Regions from separate parts of the Homo sapiens genome. Here region 2 is linked to region 1. Evidence: fine-mapped expression QTL. A gene starts in region 1. The other region holds a variant in brackets. All regions are shown on one strand. Distances are from middle to middle. Region 1 holds the start of RIMKLB (ribosomal modification protein rimK like family member B). Region 2 overlaps MFAP5 (microfibril associated protein 5).

What was found. PIP is the estimated chance that this variant, and not a neighbour inherited with it, causes the effect.
Region 2: its variant is fine-mapped to the expression of RIMKLB in whole blood (TOPMed, PIP 0.94).

What each region holds. Positions count from the first base shown.
Region 1 is chr12:8,693,959-8,702,293 of GRCh38, reverse strand. It overlaps RIMKLB (ribosomal modification protein rimK like family member B), which reads right to left and starts at 4,303. Exons shown (of 6, transcript NM_001297776.2): 1 at 3,997-4,303. RefSeq lists silencers at 3,699-3,868, 4,399-4,498 and an enhancer at 3,508-4,474.
Region 2 is chr12:8,644,242-8,652,566 of GRCh38, reverse strand. MFAP5 (microfibril associated protein 5) reads left to right here. Exons shown (of 10, transcript NM_003480.4): 7 at 876-905; 8 at 1,978-2,065; 9 at 2,993-3,066; 10 at 4,364-6,624. The coding sequence ends at 4,476. Among named protein-coding and RNA genes, the nearest start is that of MFAP5, 14 kb to the left of the region's middle. RefSeq lists enhancers at 3,491-4,690, 7,625-7,684, 7,326-7,848. The variant T/C (reference allele first, on the strand shown) is at 4,597.

The sequences.
Region 1 (8,335 bases):
CTTCAGACACTGCTCGGATAACTGATAGACAGATAAAAAATACAGAGATTACCAAAATTAGTCTGTAAACTCCATGAAGAAAGAACCGACAACCATTTTATTCCCTGATGTTATCCCCAGTGGGAAATGCATAACCTGACATGTAACACTGACAAGTTATGGAACAGAACATATTTTAATAATCTGCTATATCAAATTGTAAGAGAGTATCAAAAAATCATAGCTATTTTAATATTAAATACCAGGCAAATGGGTGTCCCCATAAGATCTATTTTTTTTTTTTTTATTGAGATGGAGTCTTGCTCTTTGACCCAGACTTGAGTGCAGTGGTACAGTCTAAGCTCACTGCAACCTCTGCCTCCAGGGTTAATGCAATTCTCCTGCCTCAGCCCCCCCGAGTAGCTGAGATTACAGACGCACACCACCACACCTGGCTAATTTTTGTATTTTTAGTAGAGATGGGGTTTTGCCATTTTGGCCAGGCTGGTCTCAAACTCCTGACCTCAAGTGATCCGCCTGCCTCAGCCTCCCAAAGTGCTGGGATTACAGGTGTGAGCCACCGCACCTGGCCCCTGTAAAATCTAAATGTAGCTATCCAAAATTCCTAATTAATGTTTTCGGGTTCTCTTAAAAAAAAAAAAAAAAAGAGATCAGGCCTGTGCTTACTTCCCATAACGGTCATATAACTGATCCAGAAATGATTAGCTTTGTTAACAAAGTTAGAAAAAAAACAAAAACATAATTTCAGAAAGAAGAAAAAAGATATAAACAGATGGGTTCCATGCAGACCAGCCTCTAGGGGAGTAGAGCTGGCTAGCTCTGTGGCTTTTGTCCTCCAAGCCAATTTTGAGAGGGGAAAAAAAAAACACTGAAAAAGAAAACATTAAAAATAACACCATGGCATTAGTTACCATGAAGCCAGAAAGTCAGTACTTTTCTACAAACCTAACATGTACACAGATACATATGGCATATAAATCTAAAATGTATTACGTAGATACTTTTGGAGGTACTATCTTATTTAACAATCCCTCATATGACAAGCAGAAAATTCCGAGACAATTAAGAGACAATTTCCAACATCTGTACGTAATCTCCCTACTCAACCTCTTGAAACAACTGCACATATCAGCACAGCTAACATTTAAAAATAATACTTTTTTCACTATCGCAGTCTCCTCCTCCCTCAGATTCTAATAACGTATTACAGTTTCTTTTTTCTTTTTTTTTGAGACAGTCTTGCTCTGTTGCCCAAGCTGGAGTGCAGTGATAAAATTTCGGCTCACCGCAACCTCCACCTCCCAGGTTCAAGCGATTCTTGTGCCTCAGCCTCCTGAGTAGCTGTGACTACAGGTGTGCGTCACCATGCCCAGCTACTTTTTATATTTTTCACAGAGACAGGGTTTCGCCATGTTGGCCAGGCTGGTTTCAAACTCCTGACCTCAAGTGATCAGCTTGCCTCATCCTCCCAAAGTGCTGGGATTACAGGTGTGAGCCACTGCGCCAGGCCACATAATTACAATTTCTAGAGGCTCTTTTCTCATTTGCTTGTGACTTAATCCCACTTGCAGAATACTCTTTGTAAACTAATCTGCCATAAAACAAAGTCTTTCTATGAATGTATATCACTGAAGCGCCCCCAAAACAGTTGTCAGCAAGCAACATACAATAAAACTCACCCTCCTTACTTTATGTTTGGTTCTCTCTCTTCACATGTTGTTCGTGGGTATAGAAGTTCTTCCTCCACCCATTTTCACTCAGTTTATGTCTCTATGCCTGCTCCCCAGAGGAAGATGATAAAAGCTACTCCTGCTTCCCAAAGTGTGGAACAACTGGCTCTGCTCTGTCCCCTTTCCCCATCCCCTACTAGTGTTCATGGTTGGTCAGTCTTTCAGCTCATAGAGAGGGGAGCTTTGAGAAATAAATCTAGTGACTTACCCCAGCAGCAAATCCTAGGTGGATACAAATTGTGAAAAGGGTAATTGGGAGATATTTTAAAAGAGATGTTTCTCCATGTGCCACAACAAACCAATGCCTGAAGCTGGGTTCGTGTTCACTGGTCAAATAATGTCCACTTTAGTGTGTTTCTTCACAGTATGACTGAGAAGGGGTGGAAGATTTAGAAGAGTTTACTGGTAATTTCCCTCTGGAGAGGAAAAGGGGCCTGAATGACAAGGGAAAAAAGAAGGGGCTAATTTATTGTCACTCTCCCTGCTACTCCTAGATACTACTACTGACAAAAGTATATTAAACAGGGATTCTAAGAAAACATGGGCAAAATAAGAAAGCTATCCACTAGAAACTAAGATAAGTAGAATTTTAGCTGGTAGCCAACCGGCTAAAGATTAAACGCTCAGTTCCTTACCCCCTGCGGGGGGGCAAGGCAGGAAGAGAAAAGTGGCTCTTGACCGAGTGGAGGATTGTCTGTGACTGAATTTGCTGTTCCCCTTCTTGGCTCTGTTCTCAGAATCACAGACTGCCCCCCTCCCTGACAAGCAGACTCCAGCACCTGGTAGGGGTAAGAGAAGACAAGAGAGAAAAAAGGGAGACAGAGAAAGATAAAAAACATCAACAGCCATGTTGCCAAACTAACAACTAAATCAATGACATGAAAGAAGGAAATTAACAGCACTAACCAAGATAGAAAAGAATAAAATAGGATTACCTCAAGACAAAATAGGCCTCCTCCCCTTTGACACACTAACCAAATAAAACAGTAACCATTGGAAAAGAAATTTAACTATGATTATTTTTAAAATTAGAGGGTTGCATACTAAAATTTAGGAAATAAATGTTAAATCTCTGAGACCGGAATTTCAGAGAGTGTTTTATTCCAAATGAATATCTTAAAAGTATTCTCATAATTGCTTTTAAGAAATCATTTTTTAAAATAGAAGAAATGACCTTTAAGGTACCCAATATTGTGAAAGTAACAAAAATGAGATTTAAAAACATTTCAATTTAAATGGTTATAGTTAATAATTAAGAACACCCATAAATATAATGAACATACCAAGCCCACAAAAAAAAATCTGCATAGTAGGCTGCCCATATACTTTCTATACCTATTTAGAGTTGAACCTAACTCCACAAAGATGTGGTAACAATATATATAACTAATGGGAAAATGACAGCATACTGAAAGAATTTACATAGCAGTTGCATTGAGCATGGTTAGTGCAATAACCCCTCACAGAACAGAATTACCACCCCATCGCTATTCGCCAATACAAATGGGATAAAACAGTGAAATAACAAATGTGTGATCAGAGATAAGGACATATTAATAAGGGGAGATTGAAATTATTACCACTCTGGTTTGGGTTTTTTTTGGGGGGGGGTGAGGGGCAAGTAGTGTAATATTTACATCATGCTCAAATTTTTAAAGAATCAAAACTGGACAAGCAATTATTTGGTCATCCCCTTCTCATTCAGAGACTGTCAAAGGAAAAGATGGAATGACTGTCACACTCTCTAAAATTTACACGTAAGGAGGAAAACGTGGAATCGAATACAGTAGCTGCGGGACCGCACCACGTGATCCTCCTCCCGCGGTCGCTCCATAGAATTTGTGGGAAGGGGGGGGAGGGGGAGTGTCGCCGCAATCCCGAGGACAGGTCAGCAGCCCGCGGGTCCGACTCCAGCCGGCGTTCCCGGGGTTACCACACCCCCTCGCCGGCGGGGAAACCATACTCCTTACACGCCCGAAGTCGCCGCCCCCTCGACACGGCTCGCCCGGTCGCACGCACACGCCACGGGCCGGCGCCTCCCGGCACACGCGCGAAGGCCGGGCCCCGCCTCGCTCCCCACCGACTCCGCGGAGCGGCGACCACCGGCCTCAACTAGCCCCGGACCCCGGGCGCGCTCGGGCCGGTCCCCTCCCCGGCCCAGCCCCCGCTAATCGGGGGATCCATTCCGCTGAACTCGCCCACTCGGGAGGGCGCGCCTTCGCCTCACTGCTCTACACCCGAGGGCAACAGCGGTCGTACCGCTCACCTGGGTCGGGGGGCTCCTCCCTCGCTCTCGGCCGACTGAGCCGGGCTGGGGCCTTCGAGGAAGCGCGGGCCGCCGGGCGGCTGGAAGTGGGGGAAGGAGAGGAGGGGGAGGGGGTCGGGATACCGGGAGCCGCCTCCTTTCTCCTCCGCCGACTGCGGCTCCCGCAGGCTGGCCGGGCGTCCTCGCACACTCGCCCAGTTTCTCACAGCCTCGCGTCCCGTCAGCTTCTCCCTCACCCCACTCCCACACACTCTCACTCCCACACACTCACACCCGGCCGCTCCTCGTTCCCTCACTCGCCTGCCGCGCGCGCGCGCGACCCCGCTCACACACAGCGCGCGCGACGCCGGCGGAGACCGCCCCGCTCCCTCAGACCGAACGCCGCCCGCCCGCTTGCTGAGGAGCGGCGCGCGCCCCGGCCCCGCCCTCCTGGCGCCGCGGCGCGGCGGGCGGGGGGCGGCGGCCGGAGGAGCTGGGGGCCGGGCCAGCGCGCCGAGCACTGCCGAGCGGATCTGACACCTGCGTCGAGAGCCGCCCTCCCAGCTCCTCGCCCGCACCCGAGCCATCGCTGGCCTCGGGGGAAGAGAGGCGATGGATCGCGCGCGGGGAGCGAAAAGGGAGCGCGAGGGCGCTCCGAGGACGCGCCTCCCCACCCGCCCCCAAACCGTCTTCACTGAGAAAGGGAAACGGATGGGGGGGGTGGGGGGCGAGGTTTGCTCCCAACTCGAAACCGCGAGATTAGTCCCTTCCGTTGTACGCCCTCCCCGCCCTCACATTCCCTGCTTAGGCCCCATCAATCTGCGCCTGGAACCCCGACACGAGCCCCCTACCCCCTCGGGCGCAGGGTCCTGCCGGCATCCCGACGCCTCCCGCCCAGCCCTTCCGCCGGCCGCCGCCCGGAGTCTCCGCTTACGGTGGTTCCTCCCTCCGGTAGGCAAAGATATGGAGACAAAGATCATTCATACCTAGAAGGTCTTTATCCGGGACTGGAGTAAAGACAGTACCTCTGTATATTGAGAGGCAAATTTAAAACCACATGATAAATTTCCTGGCTGAAGCGGGTTTGGAGATACAGGCGGGGTGGATAGCGCCAGCTCTGCCCCCTAGAAACCGGCGTAAACCTTGGACAAGTTAGTTGCTACGCTTCCTCTGAGCCTTTGTTGTGAAAAGATAAAAGAGTACAGTCCGGAGTCGTTGTGAGAATGAAATGAGATATTTTAAGAGCATTTTGTAAATTCTAAAACTATGTATAAAAAATAAAAGTATAGCCCAAAGGAGGCTAAGAATATGAATGTTCAACTACGCTATTACATTTTCTTAAGGAGAAAAAAAAAGGGCTACAGACGACCTCCCAGGTTTACATGGAAGATTCACTTCCAAATAACTTCAGTCACCAGAGACACCAGGTGTGAGGTACGGTAATGTGCTCACCAGTTTGCCTTCTTGCTGGTCTCAGCCCTGTCTCAGTGACCTCAGCCAACAACTTTTCACTGCTCCTCTCCCAGTCAATTGACAATATAATTTCATTTTCTGCTTTTAAAAAATTTTTTGACTAATTTCCTTCAGCGTCTCGAGAGTCCTTTAAAAGATGTAGCATAACCCAGGGTGGTAACTTCTGGATCCAGACTGCCCGGATTGGATTTATGGTTCCACTCCCTATGTGAACCTCTGCAGTAACTTAACCTCTCTGTATCTTTATCTGCTGAGCTGTAAAAGTGAGGATAAAAATAGTCACCTACTTCATGGAGTTGTCATAAGGAGTAAATGAGTTAATAAGTATATAATATTTAACAGCTGACACAGATCAAGTGCTGTTCAAAGTGTTTAGTGCTATTATAATGTTAGGTCAGTGAGAGTAACCTAGGATAGGCGTCTAGTTGGTTTACAAAATTTAGAGGAACAAACGCCCTATAAGATAGATACACTATCTTGAGAACAAAGGGGATAAGGTCTACAGAACTAAATTGTTGCTATTTACTTCCACTCTGATATTCAGCCCCCTGGGACATAAAGTATATTCAACTCCAAGACCAAGAGAAGCATTTTGTGATCAAGGGAAGCTTGAGCACAGAGATACTAACACTGAAAATCTGACAAAATAAACACAGTGAAATTGACACAGGGAAAAAAATGTACAGAGGATCAATAATAATATTTAATTAACCTATTCCTTCAGTCCCACTCTTAAGGAATCCAATTCGTGGTAACTGCATCCCCAGAAAAAGTGGGTTGTACTGGTGAAACTGAGGATAGGAAGTATGACTATTAACTCACTTGCCACTTGCCCTTAAAAGTTGTTATTCAGGGCAGGGCGCGGTGGCTCACGCCTGTAATCCCAGCACTTTGGGAGGCTGAGGCAGGCGAATCACCTGAGGTCGGGAGTTTTGGACCAGCCTGACCAGCATAGAGAAACCTTGTCTCTACTAAAAATACAAAATTAGCCAGGCGTGATAGCGCACGCCTGTAATCCCAGCTACTCAGGAGGCTGAGGCAGGAGAATCGCTTGAACCTGGGAGGTGGAGGTTTCAGGCCGAGATGGTGCCATTGCACTCCAGCCTGGGCAACAAGAGCAAAACTCTGTCTCAAAAAAAAAAAAAAAAAAAGTTGCTATTCAATTTATTGCTTCTATGTGCCATACACATTCTAAGATATTCTCATGTATGTAACAACGTTGCTTTTGACTTAAGCTAATAGGGAGTAAAACAAAGCTCAGGAGGGTATTTAAAAAAAGCCAATGATAAGGCTTAAACACATTACCATTATCATGATATTGTTAAGATAATGTTTATGTGAGTAATGATCAAATTCATACATCATACTTTTTATATGAAGTAATAAGGGGGCAAAAATTATTTACACCATTTCCATATTGGAAACCCAAGGTTCAGAAAGGCTGTACATACATTCAGTCATAATCTTTGAGAATTCATGGTTGATATGTTTAGGCGGCTGTGGACTCACATCTCCTTTGGGTAGCAACACCTGCTCAAAAATATTTTAAGTAGTTTTTCTTGACATAATCATGCACCACACATTTTTAACCAGTGAATTAATATTTTTCAGGAAGTTCGGAGGTGTCGGGGCCGGGCGGGGCGGGGCGGGGGGGCGGGGCGGTGCGGCAATTGAATCCCCTGGGAAGACATACTATAAGTAACCTAGCATGTCTGGAGTCAGATCAATCTGATTTGAAATCCTAGCTGTATTTACTAGCAGCATGAGATTGTTGCTTAACTTCCATAAACCTCAGTTTTCTCATCAGCAAAATGAAGATCATATTAGCACCACTTTATTAAGATAGAAGGATGAATGAGGTAACTCAAATGTAATGCATAACATAGTAAGTCTCAGTGAATGTTAGCTATTATTATTCAAGACTAACTGATACCAAAACAGTCAAATAGTAATCAAAGAGAAATTATACAATGTTTAGATATGTGTGATAATCATACAAATAGTTATATTTATTGCATATCCCTATGAGTGTAAGACCAACTCTATAGGTAAGTAATGTCTTTGAGATGAAGTTAGGGTTCATCCTTTGCCTGCACCAAAACACTTCCAGATTTTTGCTCTTATTCCTAGACACATGAGAATCAACAGGAGGGACCGGGCAGGGTGGCTCATGCCTGTAATCCCAGCACTTTGGGAGGCCAAGGCAGGTGGATCACCTGAGGTCAGGAGTTCGAGACCAGCCTGGCCCACATGGTGAAACTCTGCCTCTACTAAAAATACAAAAATTAGCCGGGCGTGGTGGCAGTTGCCTGTAATCCCAGCTACTGGGGAGGCTGAAGCAGGAGAATTTTTGAACCTGGGGGTGGAGGTTGCAGCAAGCCAACATTGGGCCAGTGCACTCCATCCTGAGCAACAGATGGGTACTCCATCTCAAAAAAAAAAAAAAAAAGAAAAAAAATTCAACAGGATGTTGAGTGTGATGGCTCACACCTGTAATCCCAGCAGTTTGGGAGGCTGAGACAACAGGATCGCTTGAATACACGAGTCCAAGACCAGCCTGGGCAACACAGGGAGAGCCTGTCTCTATTTTTATTGTTTTTTGTTTTGTTTTTTGAGACGGAGTCTGGCTCTGTTGCCCTGGCTGGAGTGCAGTGGTGAGATCTTGGCTCACTGCAACCTCCACCTCCCAGGTTCAAGTGATTCTCCTGCCTCAGCCTCCTGATTAGCTGGAATTACAGGCGCCCAGCTAATTTTTGTATTTTTAGTAGAAACTTGGGGTTTCACCATGTTGGCCAGGCTGGCCTCGAACTCCTGACCTCAAGTGATCCGCCCACCTGAGCCTCCCAAAGTGCTGGGATTACAGGCATGAGCCATCTCACCTGGCCCC
Region 2 (8,325 bases), 50 kb after region 1:
TTCATCTAACTCCTTGGCTTGTTCTTCATTCTGTGAATAAGGCCCATGTTAAATTTGCCCCTAGGTTAGGATGACTCTCATTATTCTTTATTTATTTATTTATTTATTTATTTATTTATTTTGAGATGGAGTCTCCCTCTGTCACCTAGGCTGGAGTGCAATGGTACGATCTTGGCTCACTGCAGCCTCTGCCTCCCAGGTTCAAGTGATTCTCCTGCCTCAGCCTCCTGAGTAGCTGGGATTACAGGTGCACATCACTACACCCAACTAAGTTTTGTATTTTTAGTAGAGAGGGGGTTTCACCATGTTGGCCAGGCTGGTCTCAAACTCCTGACCTCAAATAATCTACCTGCCTTGGCCTCCCAAAGTGCTGGGATTACAGGTGTGAGCCATTGTGCCCAGCTGACCCTCATTATTCTTTACCCAACAGCTTCTATCAAGAGAATTTATGATGATGTATCTAATCTACAGAAAATAAATTTTCTCTTATAAGGAAGAGCTTGTACAGGATAATAATCTTTTCTCTGCTTAGCTCTAGGAAGAAGCTCCTCTGGGCATGTAACTCTTTGCCTTGTGTTCCTACTAAATTTGCTTCTTGTCAACAATACAGAGATACTCACAATACAATGAATTTCTCAACTCTTTAGAAAGGAAAGGAGAAAGGAAAAAAATCCCATCCTGCCTCCTAATGTCTTCAATTTTGTGGAGCAAATCAGCTCAATAAGGGTTTTCTTTTAGAAGTTGCTAAGAGTTATTAATTCATTTGCTCCCTATTTATGGGCACTCCAAGCAGGTCCTAAGTGAGGCAGTGTGGCAGTTACAGAAGTAGTAACTTCTAGAATTGGTAACAGTGGAATAAAATTTCTGCCTTTCAGCCTCCCTCAGTGAAAAAAATACCACTGCAGGTATGATTGTTGCTTGCATGCCTTCTTAAGCCTTTTTTTCTTCCTGTGGATTCCTTACCTCCTTGTTCTTTGGAGGGTACTTGGCACATCTTCTAGTTTACTTCCAATTATTTCTCAAAGAGTATTAGTGTTCTTCACTCCCTTACTCTTTTTTTTAAAAAAATGAGCACCTGTCATAAAAGTCAAGGGGAAAGAATGGAACAAATGTTGCATGGTCCCCAAATAGCCCTCTCCCTAAAGTACCCTTGCACATTATGTGGTGGTTAGTGGATTGGGAAGTGAAATCAATTTAACTTCAAGGACTCCATATTACCACGGAGGCCATGGTTAAAATTGCATTTCCTAATGTACTGATAATTCTGATATATAGCTAGGGTTGAAAACTACTGGAACAGAGAAATAGCAACCTGCCTAAGAAATCTGATTCTTTCAGAATGGGATTATCAGCATTTCTATTTTATTTTACTATTTTGTTTTATTTTATTTTATTTTTCTGAGATGGAGTCTCACTCTGTCACCCAGGCTGGAGTGCAGTGGCGTGATCTTGGCTCACTGCAACCTCCGCCTCCCAGGTTGAAGTGATTCTCCCGCCTCAGCCTCCCGAGTAGCTGAGATTACAGGCAACTGCCACCACTCCTGGCTAATTTTTGTATTTTCAGTAGAGACGGGGTTTTACCTTGTTGGCCAGGCTGGTCTCGAACTCCTGACTTCAGGTGATCTGCCCGCCTCGTCCCCGCAAAGTGCTGGAATTACAAGCATGAGCCACCGTGCCCAGCCTATTTTATATTTCATAACGGACAATTCTAGAAAGACTTTATTCCTAGAAGTGCTCTCAGAGATTATTTTATCCACTTCTACTTCCAAGTAGGGAAGCGCCAAAACTTCATTTAGTCAATTCCCTCTTGCTGTGTTTTTGGTGGACGGAAAGGATGTAGCCCAATTTATAATGATTCTCTGTAGAGATTACTCTGTATTTTTTTCCTACTCTATCTATCCTTCCCAATTCCTTCAATCCTTCATTTATGCTGCTTCTATTTGGACCTCCTTATTTTTTTGTATTGGGCTTCCTCAGAGTGCTGGGATGAGAAATTTACCTGCACAAGGCTCTACTCTGTGCATCGGCCGGTTAAACAATGCATTCATCAGTTATGCTTCACCAGGTAAGGGATCCCAGAATGCCCAAAAAGCATCTTCCATGGTAGTGTTTCTGTGTTGATAACTATTTAATGAGCACCCACTATGGAATTGCAAACTTTGATGGGGCCAAAGTTTTTAGCACAACCCTCCTAGTTATTGCTGAATGTACCAACTAGAACCTGGAGTATGGGCTGAAGTGTACAAAGAACAGGCAGAGTAATAGAACTTAGAAGGGAAATGAAGGTGGGCGCTGGAGGAAGAAGGGTCATGAGGGAAATACTGGCATGCTCAATTTATTACCTGATAGAAGGAGACTGAAGAGAATGGCCCAGCTCTAAGGTAGAAAATAGTGGGGAGGAATATTAAGCCTGACTTTAGGTAGAGTGTGCAAAGTGTCACTAAGAAGAATAACTAAAACAATGGCCTTTGCAACAACTTGGATGGAGCTGGAGGTCATTATTCTAAATGAAGTAACTAAACAATGAAAAACCAAATATTGTATGTTCTCGCTTATAAGTGGGAGCTAAGCTATGAGGAGGCAAAAACATAAGAATGATATAATGGACTTTGGGGACTCAGGGGAAAGAGTGGGAGAGGAATGAGGGATAAAGGCTACACATTGGGTACGGTGTACACTGCTTGGGTGACGGGTGCACCCAAATCTCAGAAATCACCACTAAAGAACTTATCCATGTAACCAAAAACCACCTGTACACCAAAAACTATTGAAATAAAATTTAAAAAACAGAAGAGTAATTAATACCATTCCCTCCCCTATTTTCCAGTTGGGGGGCAAAAGTCTGAAATACTTAAGAAAATACAGTTGGGGAAAAGCAGATAGGGAAAGTGGGGAATATGAGAGTTGAAGAGGCATCCCAGACCCAGGTGAGTTCTCCTCTCAAGGCTTTCTTCCATCTCCTTCCTTGCCTATGACACTGGGACGTCTGCAGTTTACGACGTATGTACATCGTCAACAAGGAGATCTGCTCTCGTCTTGTCTGTAAGGAACACGAAGCTATGAAAGGTAAGATGATGTCTGGATGTTTAATGGAGAGAAGCAGTTATGAGAAGGGTAGATAGGGACATGATATTACTATATCCAAAGTCTGGTACTAGAGGAGGGCTTCAGGCTACCCCCTTAGAGTCCATCAGCTCCTGCTGGAAGTTATCTCAAATAAACAATCTACATAAAGCAGTATGCTTGATATACAAACATAACCCTAAGAAAAGTACCCCTAGATCCCTGTCCTACTAGATTGTAACCCCACAGTGTCTCCTACTTAGAGAGCTTTCTGACACTCTGGCTATTTTAAAGATCATTCACTGGGGTTCTAGGGAAAATTTCAAGTCAGCCATTACAGATAATAGACTCTGCTAGTCCGCAGCCATGTTCATAACTAAAAATAAAACATACACACGCACATGCACTAATTTGGAGACAGTAAGGTTTGGATAGGGCCTATAAATAAAAAATAGATGGGACATTTAGAAATCAGCTATGTTATAAATAGTTCACCAATTCCAAGAACAATGAACATTTCTTACTGTGACATTTCAGGTAGAAGAAGGTAGAAAGATGTTATGGGGCAATTACGAGGGCCCAAAATGTGTGGTTGTAGACCATACATGGTGGAAACAAAGATACTCTCACCTTCCCCATGGCCAGCCCCGAACGATGGCTGTGGTTGGTGAAAACACCACAGACAAAGCCATTTCTGACTCAGCAGCCCGCTTTGTGCTGAGTTCCTGAGTAAGAGCTGTAGTTAACTTCGCAGAAGGAAACTTGCTGTGTGCCCCCATTGGCTTTGTGCAAGCCACCTGCAAGGGAAGCACCTTGAGATTGAGGATGGGTATTTGGGACTCTAGGCACTTTCAAGTATCTCAAGGGACTTCCTAAAGTTAGCTGTTTGCCCATAGTAAGCACGTAAATGTATACTGAATGATTGGATCTCATTTTTCTATTTAATAGATCCATGATTAGAAGAATTGGCAGCTGGATATATAAAGGAAACTAACATTTACTGCTCACCTGTGCTAGGTACTTTGCATACATGATTTCATTTTAATACTCAGAAATATACTGTTGAGGTAGGTATTTTAATTCTCATTTTACAGAAAGGGATAGTGAGGTTTATAAAATTTAAGAAACTTTCTAGGAAGTGGCAAATAACTAAAGTAAGTGGCAGAGCTGGTTAAAACCCGGATCTTTTTCTCTCCAACCTTTTCACTACACCACACTGAAAAGTCTTCTCTATCCCTTAAAACAAGAGCCTTTGTTATCTTCTGCATTCTCTTCCCATGATGTTCTGCTTCTCTTCTAGATGAGCTTTGCCGTCAGATGGCTGGTCTGCCCCCTAGGAGACTCCGTCGCTCCAATTACTTCCGACTTCCTCCCTGTGAAAATGTGGATTTGCAGAGACCCAATGGTCTGTGATCATTGAAAAAGAGGAAAGAAGAAAAAATGTATGGGTGAGAGGAAGGAGGATCTCCTTCTTCTCCAACCATTGACAGCTAACCCTTAGACAGTATTTCTTAAACCAATCCTTTTGCAATG[T/C]CCAGCTTTTACCCCTACTCTCTACTTTTTCACCCAAACTGATAACATTTATCTCATTTTCTAGCACTTAAAATACAAAGTCTATATTATTGCATAATTTTGCTGCTTCTCAATATCATAGACACAGTGAATAGATGATGACTATATGGCTTATATACAAACATTCTATGTACAATTTCAAGGGAGACTAAACTTTAGGCTAATAATCTTTACTATTGAATCTGTCTGATATAGATCTTAGGGTTGAAGAAGCTATCTTTGTCTATTTGGGCTAACCATAGAATTTCATTTATTTTCCTCACAATATTTTCCTAGACCAACTCCCCATCATTCACGTGTTCCTCTTTACTCTTACTTTAACTATTTTGCTGGCTTGCCCGAAAATTTGCCTGGCAAGTCTTCCTTATAAGACACATCATGGTAAGTTTTGTAGTCCTGTAAGATTCTGCAACACAGTCAAGAATTATACAATCCTACTAGCAATATATAAGGACCCAAAATGTCTTCTGCTAAGCTCAGAGGCTGGGGCTAAAGCATGAGGACTATGCCAGCTATAGAACTTGGACTCATAATTCGCTATCCAATTTTTCATGCAGTTGTCTAGTCGGGAAGTAAGGTTGGAAACTAAGTCTCATTTACTGATTCGTTTATGGGTAGTACCGGGATGAACCCACCACCACAAAGCAAATTAGACAACTTAATGTGAAATCATACCATTGGTTGACGTTTCCTTGAGTTGCTACTTCGTTCATCTTCACAACTTAACAAGTGCACGGTCGAATTATTGTGCAAGTGGCTTTTGGATATCCTGATTGGGGCCTAAGAAGGGCATTCAGACTTGAATTTTAATAGGCAGACAGAAAGTTTGCCTAATAGTTAATACGAAAGAGTGAAAGAAACACAATATTCAGACAACCCACATTCTTATCCTGGCTCTAGCAGTAACCACGTAGCCTTGGATAAGCCATTTTCCTTCATTAGGTCCTGGTTTAATTTCCTCATCTTTAAAATGAGAAGGTTAAATTTATCTTAGTACTGCTGGGCGCAGTGGCTCATGCCTGTAATCTGAGCACTTTGGGAAGCTGAGGCGGGTGGATCACTTGAGGTCAGAAATTTGAGACGAGCCTGGCCAACATGGTGAAACCCCATCTCTACTAAAAATACAAAAATTAGCTGGGCGTGGTGGCACGTGCCTGTAATCCCAGCTACTCGGGAGGCTGAGGCAGGAGAATCAATTGAACCTGGGAGGCAGAGGTTGCAGTGAGCCGAGATGGCGCCATTGCACTCCAGCCTGGGTGACAAAAGCAAAAGTCCATCTTAAGAAATATATATATATATTATATATATTCTTAGTTCTAAGATTTCCTTTAATTCTATGATTCTCTGGATTTAAATGCATTATTCATATTTCTTGAAGCTTAGATACAGTCTAATTCATAGCAACCATATCTGCTTTATCCTAGGTGAGGGTAGCAGTCCACAATGGAATAGAAGAAAATCCCATTATAACAAATGACAAATTATATATCATGAATCCTTCTGTCTGACTAACTCAATAACTTTCTATAAAAGCCAATGGAATTCAAATAGGAGCTAGGAGACAACAAGTTATATATGACAGTGGAGGTTGTATTCCTTTTATATTGCTGAGAAAACTAGTTAAATGATCAGATTCTTGCTGTTAAGAAACAATTTCGTTTAATGGGATCTGTACAACTGATTTTAAAAAAATGCTACAAAAAGCCCCAAAGCATATAATCTCTACTCCTTACAGTCTCTAGAATTAAATGTACTCATTTAGACAACATATTAAATGCATATTTTAGCCACTTTAGAGAAACCTCATAGGCACAGAGTTTCCAAGATTAATTTTAAGAATATCTTCACGAACTTGACCCTCCTACTCCACATTGCAACATTTCCATCAGACAGCATTTCAATTCCAGTATTATGTATATTGCAAATTAAACATTTTAAAATATTTTTTTCCAATTTATTTCTCAAAATAAAATGTCTTTTGTTCTGGTTCTTTTTCTCTTCTATGTTTACGAAAAAGGCCTGAATTTATGAACTTTTATTCCACTTTAAAAAATGTGTATCAGCCGGGCGTGGTGGCTCACGCCTGTAATCCCAGCACTTTTGGAGGCTGAGGTGGGCGGATCACCTGAGGTCAGGAGTTTGAGACCAGCCTGGCCAACATGATAAAACCCTGTCTCTAAGAAAGATACAAAAAAATTACCCAGGCATGGTGGCGGGTGCCTGTAATCCCAGCTACTCGGGAGGCTGAGGCAAGAGAATCGCTTGAATCAGGGAGGTGGAGGTTGCAATGAGCCAAGATCATGCCACTGCACTCCAGCCTGGGCAACAACAGTGAAATTCCGTCTCAAAAAATAAAAGAAGATTCAGAAGAAAGTTTTTACTCATTAAGGTGTTAATATATTTTTTTTCCTGGTGAGCCCAAATGACAACCTTGCTAAGCAATGGCTTTCAATGAAAAGCCATTTTTTAAACCAAAATAATGGATCTTTAATGTTAGAATTAAAGAATTTGGTAAAAATATCAGTAGATATTGAATGCCCTCCTGGTATCCTGAATAGATAGCAGCCTCATCTACCTATTCATAAAGATTCACTTTTATTTTCCCTTCTCTAATTGAGTTGATTCTACTCTGAGGCTTTTTCCATATTCCATGCTTACGATTCAAGAAAATTCTACTTTCTCCTCAAATGAACACATTCTGGAAATTTGAGTGTGTCTTCTACTCACTAAATACAGTTCTATGCACACTCAGTATTGTTTTGACTCATGGCAGAGAGTGCAAACCGCAGCTGGTTTCCCAATTTCTGAGTCTTACTTTGATGACATATACAGCAGTATATGTTGCTAGACACAAGCTCCTCCCTTCTCTGCTTCAGGGTACTTGTGGCCAAAGTTAGATGTTTAACTAACCACTTTACACCTGGTGAGAAGGCACAAACAACCTCTAAGATCCCTCTTCCTTTTGTACTGAAGCAGCTGTAACACAATGAAGAAGGAAAACAATCCTAAAAGAAGTGGGAACAAAGATGGCACCAGACCAGGGGATAGCCAGATGAGAGAGTGACAACAGGCTGACACCAGGGTTGGGGAGCCAGGAAGCTAAAAGATGGAAACTGTCAAATTCCAAATTCAAAGGGAATTTGAGAAGTGGGGAAGGGGTCCTGGGGGATCTGGAAACTTAGGGTAAAACAGAAAGACATCAGGAGCACAGTGGAGGAGAGGCAGGACTGTCCTTGTAGCTTTGTCAGCTCAGGGAGGCCTTACTTAATAAAGCAATACTCTGATAAAAACGGAAGCCCTTGTATCTTTGAGCATTTTCACCAACCAAACATCAGGGAAAGTGACTTGTTAAGACTGCGGTAAGGAGAGGAACAGGTGGCCACAGTTTTGTTTTCTTTCTTTCTTTCTTTCTTTCTTTTTTTCTCTAAAAACCAGTCAAGCAGACCCAGAAGCAGCAGTCAGACGACAAATTCTGGGCAGAACCCAAGATGGAAAAAGCAAATGTTTATATAAATAGAGGTGCAGAGCCCACAGCTTCCTGTTGACAAATCGAACTTCACTTTACCTCAAACCCTCATTTTTTTTTAATAGCTGATAATGATTTGGTGTTATTTTTCAACTTGTCCAATCACTTAGAGTAAGGTTCTAGTTTATTCCTAACCCTTGGGTCTTGCAGTTCTTTTCTCTACC